2 linked regions of the Homo sapiens genome follow. The protein of the gene in region 2 purifies or fractionates together with the protein of the main gene of each other region. This does not show direct contact. Each region holds a gene or a part of one and is shown on either strand. Other genes may lie near its edges.

Evidence for each region.
Region 1: the proteins of RAP1B (region 2) and MAP3K4 purify together in Homo sapiens (affinity purification with mass spectrometry, with the first as the bait; one large-scale study listed by BioGRID). This does not show direct contact.

Annotation. Positions count from the first base shown.
Region 1 is NC_000006.12:161,046,902-161,050,969, reverse strand, and holds part of MAP3K4 (mitogen-activated protein kinase kinase kinase 4), read right to left. Parts: intron 2,355-4,068; coding exon 991-2,354; intron 1-990. UniProt on the Homo sapiens protein: Component of a protein kinase signal transduction cascade. Activates the CSBP2, P38 and JNK MAPK pathways, but not the ERK pathway. Specifically phosphorylates and activates MAP2K4 and MAP2K6.
Region 2 is NC_000012.12:68,655,571-68,659,638, reverse strand, and holds part of RAP1B (ras-related protein Rap-1b isoform 1 precursor), read right to left. Parts: intron 3,334-4,068; coding exon 3,190-3,333; intron 2,539-3,189; coding exon 2,452-2,538; 3' UTR 2,422-2,451; intron 360-2,421; 3' UTR 1-359. UniProt on the Homo sapiens protein: GTP-binding protein that possesses intrinsic GTPase activity. Contributes to the polarizing activity of KRIT1 and CDH5 in the establishment and maintenance of correct endothelial cell polarity and vascular lumen.

The sequences.
Region 1 (4,068 bases), on a different chromosome or scaffold from region 2:
TTGTATGAGGGACTTGAGCATTTTCGGATTTTGGGATCCGTGGGAAGTCCCAAAACCAAACCACCTCTGATACCAAGGGGATTGTACATATGTATGTATACAGCTACTAAAATTCAGAATCACAGACTTAACACGGGTATAAGGTATTTCAAAGATTTGGGTTTCACTTTTAGCCAGACGAACATGCAAACTCACCAGAAAAGCAAAATCACTTGTACAGTACTATTTTGGACTCTCAAGAATGATATCCCACAAAATGCCCTTGTCTAGTATTACCACCCTTTACAATAAGGAATTTATAACACGTCAAGCTATCAAAAGCAAATCTATACTGTTTTCAAGTCACTTCCTCTAGTGGGCACATTCCTCTCACAAAAATCTACACATATCGAAACACATATCTGACAAAAATCAGGACTTCCCTTAAACTTTCATCACCTGCACCGAACACTTTAACCTTGCGAGATAGTGTTGGCTTTTTCCCCTTGATCATTCTGACATTTCTCTATAATTTACATCTCTTTAAAATACAGTGACCAAAACTTGACATGCTAATCAAAAGAGAGAAAACAACTTCAAAGGATAGAGAAAGAACTCTCTCCTTGACCTTGGGCGCCCTATTCATTTATAAACACCTGAGTGTGACGTGGACTTTTTTCCTGACTCACATGCAGCTTGTGGTCATCCATGACTATGGCTTTCTTCCTTCCATTTTTGTTTATACCCAGCCTGTCCTTTGCCATCCTGTATTTACGTGGTTGAACTTATTCCCTCCACATACCACCCTGCACTTAATTCACTAAATTTCATGCAGTTTTCATAGATCTATTTAATCATAGTACTTTACAGAAATGCTTAAATGTGCAATTTATAACTGCCATTTGTGTTCAAAAATATTAGAATATGAAAGTACATAACACCAACATTATAATTTGCAATAAATAAATGGAACTAAGGATATCATTGTATTAATACCTACTGGAAACCTACCTCCACTGGACGATCGTTCTTTACCAATGCTATACGTGCCCTTTGCAAGGAACCATCCATTAGCTTGTGAAGTCTTAAAATTAACTTTCTTAACCCCATCTGCTTCAGTGCTTTGTCTACAAATGGTCTATAAATAGAAGTCAGACAATGTCTACTAAAGCCTGCTTCTGTGCTCCAGTCTGGTGCTCCCCAGCCAAGAGAATCATCCTCAGATTCGAGCCTCTCAAGCTTCTTGGATATGCAGTCCCGCGACTGGATGTCGAAGCTGTTATCTATGGGCTGTCTGATTTCCGGTACCCTAGGATCAGAGATTTGTTCTTCTTCACTCTCATCCGTACTACTTTCCAACTCCTTTAATTCTCCTTCTGTGTCATCACCCTCATACTCCGGCTCATTACCTTTGGATGGTCGAGGGGAAGGGATTTCAAACACTGGCCAGCCAATGTCTGATAAATTCTTGATGCCCAAAACAGTGCCCATAATCCTTAATTTCTGATTTAAGTCTTTTGTGATGTTTAACCACAAACAGAGTGCCTGCACCCTGTCCTGGAAGTCTTTTGCAGCATATTTTTCATAGTCCTTCTGAAGAGCCTGCAATGATGGATAAAGTGCTTCTATGTACTCTAGCAGCTCCATTATCCGTTTTACCTGCTCAAATGAGACCCTCTGGCGTTGGAGATGCTCATGATGTGTTGAGTAACCTACAATCTTTGTTCCAGGAGTGGCTTTGCACTGCCCTTCTACTGAAGTACCATTAAAACCAGCTCTATCTCTAACAAAGGCGAAGCTCCCATAGTCGACTTTGAAAGTAAGGATTTCATTAATAATATCTGGGATGGCTTGACGGGCTGTATATAAAAAGAAGTCCTGGTCGTTAATTGTCCGTCCTGCATGCCAGGCTTGTAGCTCTAACCAGATCAGTTCGTTAGATCGGTTAAGCCAGAAACCAGACGTATTTTCTTGTCCTCTTTGCTCCCTGTCTTTTTTCTTTGAGACTGAGGTAAGCTTTAGCAAAAGTCGTAAAGTTTCAAAAAACTTTAAACGATCTGCTGGACAGTCAGTCCTAGAAGTCTGGCGTGCAGGTCTGGCTATAGGCATGGGCACAGATACTGGAAGCTTAGCATTGCTACAGCCAAGGCTGAGGTAAGGCTTATTGAGATCCACATCTGGAATTGATTTTTTTGGCAAAGATCCACCCACTGAGTCTAACATGAATGAGCACTGTACATTTTTTTTACGATCACGCTCTGTTGTTCTAAGAGCTGCTCGGATCTTTTTCTCCTGCTTATAGCTGTATTCTTCCACATTCTCCACTGTTTTTCCAGTGTCTTTATGTGGAGGCTGATTTGGTGCATTCATTTTTTCTATTAAAAAAAAAAATAAACAGAACATTATATAACTCTAAAATATGAAGCTACTCTCAATATTTTCAATAAAACTGGTATTCACACATATTTATATTTTCAGACTGCTAATGGAAGAAAAAAAAGCATACCATATCCTAAAAATTAAAGGAATCAAAAAATATATATGACATTTTCTATATTTTAAAAAAAATTATCCATTTTTCCAGTATTTGCTGTATTCTCTTATATTCACAACTAATTACCTAAACTAGCTGTTTATTTCTCTCTATGCTACAAAGCATAGTTATCAAATCATTTAACCAAATTTCCGTAAGTAATCACCTTCAATTTAAGGAGGAAGAAACAGCATGGGAGATCTGACGGACACCTGGATGAGAAAATATATTTAATTCCTGCATTTGTCATTAGCTAAATGTGTAAACTTAAGAGGAAATCACGTAAATTATCTGGATTACTTTTCTCATTGATAAAATTAGGCACATTGATGCAAGAATACTTAAGGCACCCTAAGATTATTCTCATAAAAAACTGAAAGACAGTTGACAGACAAAAACACTGACGTTAGTTTATTCTATTCCTTTATTTCTCCTTTGCCACAAACAAGTGGGCAATAACATTTTAAATTTAAAATTAGCAAGACTGAAGACATATAGACTAATTTGGTATAATTTGCTTAGTATGTTATACTGCCATGTAAAATCATTTACAATTAATGCGAAAAAAGCAAAAACCACCCACTTCCTTCAAACATCTAGAAGAGGTTCTATAATCTGATTCCAAGCTTTAAAATGAACACACATACATCCTGTATGGCACTTTTAACACTATTAATTGCTCTACGTTACTGAAATCCTTTCATTCTGTTGCTTCTGGGTTCTTACACTTCCTTAAGTTAGTCCCTTCTTTTCAAATACCTCCTTGGAGCTTTGCTCACTACATAAAATGTTAATGTTTCTCCAAGTGCTAATCTTAGATCTCTTCTCCCTGGGTGATCTCATTCATTTCCACATCATATATCGATAATGCCCAAACCTATAACGCCATCTCAATCTACCCTCTACACTCAAGGCATAGTTTATTTCATTGAATCTAGGACACACATTTTTTCATACATTAACATCTCTGAAATTAGAACGTTATATATAATCAATGATGATATAAGTAAGTTTTAGGGACATATTTGCCAATATTTTTCATTTACATTTTTCTTTTTTTCTGAGACAGGCTGGAGTGCAGCCTCAACTTCCTGGGCTCGAGTGATCCTCCCGCCTCAGCCTCCCAAGTAGCTAGAACCACAGGCACGCATCACCACACCCAGCTAATTTTTTTTTTTGGGTAGAGACAGGATCCCACTATGTTTCCTAAGCTGGTCCCAAATTCCTGGGCTCAAACAATCCTCCCACCTCTGTCTCCCAAAGTGCTGAGATTACAGGCATGAGCCACTATGCCTGGCCCATTTTTTTAAACATATATATATATATATATATATATATATGCATAAGTGAAATATATATCTACATATCAGAAAGTATAAAAGATCTCTTTAAATAAATAAAAATTCCAATTATAAGAACACACCATCAATTATAAGCTGTTTTTACCTTAGAATATATTATAATCTCTTAGTATATATTTCTTATATACTAAGAATTTTATTATATATATTAATATAATAATTATACTAAGAAATTATTATATAATTTTCTTAGTA
Region 2 (4,068 bases):
TGCTAAAATAGTGGTGCTTTTAGGATTTACATTATTGTACTCTCCAATACAAAGTATGGGGCATGTTAAAGTATACAGTACACCATTTTCATACATGTACAACATTGGTGGATGAAGAATGTCTCTTAGCAGTAATACTGGATGTAGCCTCTGGTTTTACCAGCTGCAAACTCTAGGACTATTATATAAGTAAAAATCTCTCTTGTGATACTGGAAAGTGATTAGAATGTGCAAACTGATATAGTAGCTTTCATCCGCCTCTTAAAGGGTACCACCACAGGAAAGTCCATTTAAGATGTTGGTAGGTTTAACAAAGTTGGAATGCTGGCACTGTTGAATTGGGCAACAGTTCTTCAGACCTGTCAAAAGGAAAAAAATTAATTAAAAACATGGGCTAGAAAAAGTAAAGACCCAAAAGCAAACAGTTAAGAAAACAGTCTTAAAAGTGTTAGAAATGAATATAATCTAGGCTCTTGTTCTAGGCATTACATTAGTGGCAACATACCACAATTCACGGCAGACCTTTTCATTCCAAAAAGATGAAGTCTATTCTGCTGCCCTCTTGAAAGTCAGTTAAATGAAAATCTTAGGAACAGAAAGGGAAAGTACCTTTGTGCAAATTTTTGTGCATTACCTTCCAAGGATTAAAAAGGAAAAAAATCACATTAAAATTGTTAGTCAAGTCAACCTTATTAGAATTAGGATTGAAAAGTCAGATAGCAATATTAACAAACTGGGTGATCCTGTGTTTACACAATCGTAATGTACTCCTAGAATTAGATCATAAGTATAGAATGCACATCTAACCAAGGTTTCTAGTATCAGATAATCAAGTTCTTCCTCACTCTTTCAATGAAAGTGGCTAAAAAGCTCGTTCAGAGCAGACAAATAGAATTTATTTCATGATGGTGTTTTACAGATTTACAATCACGTTATATAATTTCTAATTCCATATTTAAACATTCTATTAAGACTGATGTCAGAAAAAGGTGGTATTACACTAAAATCACATGTAATTAAAGATTTTAAAAAGTAAACTTAGAATTGTTAAATATGTACTTTGAATAGTTTTCTGCATACATGCCTCGGCTAAAAAAATGTTCCCTATTATATTTTTCTGGTGATCAGACTTGTTACAAGCTCCAGAAGAGTTGTTAATACATATGTGGCTGTTGAAATAATTTTCACAAATGCCTAGAACTTTAGGTCCTCATTCTGAGTCTGAATGAGGTTTGCAATCAAGTTTTCTAAATCCTGGCAGACTGTTGCAAATTAAAAAGGACAGATGGAAGTGTGTGAGCTCAAGCACATGTGTGCTGCTAAGAATGGGCATGTGGTCAGGAATTATAGGATATTAGAATGAGAGGATATACCACTAAACAGAAAGCCCTAGATGGAAGGCAGGAATAAAAACTCTGAAAAGATGCAGAATCAAAGTGCTATGGCAGCACTGAGTCAATTAACATAGGAAGAAATAAGAGTCAGGAATGTCAAAGGTTCTTAAGAATAAATTAACAGTTTAACAATAAACAGTTTAATGACAGCTGAAGAGGAAACCATTATCATTGGCAAACAGCAGCAGCTAATAGTTGAGTGTTAACTATGTGCCAGGTACCGATGCAAGATCTGTGCAGCAAACCCCATGGTACACCTTTACCTATGTAACAAACCTGCACATCCTGCACATGTATCCTGGAACTTAAAAGTTGAAGGAAAAAAAAAAAAGTGGCACATGATGAACATGTCAGGGGTGTGTGTGTGTGTGTGACTGGCACATGATGAACATGTCAGGGGTGTGTGTGTGTGTGTGTGTTTTAAATTAGGGACGGTTGGCTGGGAGCGGTGGCTCACGCGCACGCGCGCACGTGTGTGTGTGTGTGTGTGTGTGTGTGTGTGTGTGTGTGTGTGTGTGTTTTAAATTAGGGACGGGGTTGGCTGGGAGTGGTGGCTCACGCCTGTAATCTCAGCACTTTGGGAGGCCGAGGTGGGCAGATCACGAGGTCAAGAGATTGAGACCATCCTGGCCAACAATGGTGAAACACCATCTCTACTAAAAATACAAAAAAACTAGCCGGGCGTGGTGGCACGTGCCTGTAATCCCAGCTACTCGGGAGGCTGAGGCAGAAGCATTGCTTGAACCTGGGAGGCGGAGGTTGCAGGGAGCTGATATTGCGCCACTGCACTCCAGCCTGGGTGACAGAGTGAAACTCCATCTCAAAAAAAGAATACTTATGTGAAATACTTTACTCATGATGATAAGTAAATAATTAATAAGATAGCATACTAACTCATGGATATCTTATAAAAATAAACCATTTATTTTTCAGAACCAACAAAAAGAAGTCTATACTTGCTTTCATGACAGAGTGCCCTTAATAAGGTTGAGTGATTAAAAGTTAGAGGAAAGATAAGTGAACATACCTGGCTCAGAGCTACAATGCATTTAGTATATTAAAGCAGCTGACATGATGACTTTTTGCGAGCCTTCCCAGGCACTGGAGTTTTTCTGTTAATTTGCCGCACTAGGTCATAAAAGATCTGCAAATACAATAATTTGTTTTAATTTACAGGAGGAACACCTATCCCCCCCAATGAAAAAAGTAAATTGAAAAAACAGAAATTTCCATGGATATAAATTAATGCCCAGAATTGTTCAGCTAAGGAATGAGAATAAAATCAGGTGTTATAACTGCCAAGCTCAAATTTTTGGGGAGTGTTAATATTGTGCTCCTTAAAATACTTAGTTGAAGGAGCTGCAGAGATCTTAACTTAGTTCAATTAGAACATTTACCATCACACAAAGAAAAAATCCTTTTAAAAACTGTAAGTTTTTGCTCTACAACATGACTTGGAGCCTTTCAAGAACCATGCATACTTTTCGGAATTTTACTCTATTTTTCATATAACATCCTTCATATACCTGAAGTCTTAATCTGTCTTCCCTATCCATGTATTTTCTGTCCAGTCTTCCTTTTTCATGGTAAATATCAATGTACAAGTATTTAATAGAGACTGAAATAGTATTGTTTATTTACTACATAGATACATTTAACATGAGGGTTTTTTTTTTTTGCCTGTAACATCAACATATTACCCTGAGTACATATTAACTTGGGGTTAAGACATTTTCCATTCATCTTCAATGTTGTACTTCAAATGAAGACCCATTTTAAGTATATTTGACCATACCTCATTAACATTTATTTTTGATTTTGCAGAAGATTCTAAGAATGCACAGTTGTTCCATTGTCTTGCTAGATTTTGACCTTGTTCCTTCCCTACAACTCTTTCATCTTCCAAGTCACACTTATTACCAACAAGAATCATTGGAACCTAAAAATACATTTGTGAGAGTAAAAATAAATAAGTAAATATGCTATATGAATTCAAATCAAAAGAATTCTAAGAGTCAAATCTAAGAATTACTTTTCATATGCCACAAAAAATATTAAATAATGTATAATAAAATTTACAGCCTTAACAATTTAATCTGTAACATAAACATAAGTATTAACTTTGATGTCAATTATCTCCACTGCCTTCTCTTTTCATGGAGATGCAAACGATAACTCCAAAGGGAAGAAAAGAGAGAAAGAAAACTCTCATATGTTAAGTAAAATGAACACAACCTAGTCAATGTAGACATAAATAAGACACTTTTACATAAACTTTTGAGAAAACAAGCTATGATCCTGTTATGAGAGATGGGGGGAAAAAACCTTAAAATTTTATCATAATGGACGGAAGGCTCCCAAAATAGAATTTTTAGTTTCTCATAGTCTTGTATTAAAAAAGTCAATCAAGGCCAGGCACAGTGGCTCACGCCTGTAATCCCAGCACTTTGGGAGGCCGAGGCGGGTGGATCACCTGAGGTCAGGAGTTGGAGACCAGCCTGGCCAACATGGCGAAACCCTGTTTCTACTAAAAACACAAAAATTAGCTGGGTATGGTGACACACGCCTGTAATTCCAGCTACTTGGGAGGCTGACACAGGAGAATTGCTTGAACTTGGGAGGCAGAGGTTGCAGTGAGCTGAGATCGTGCCATTGCACTCCAGCCTGGGCGACA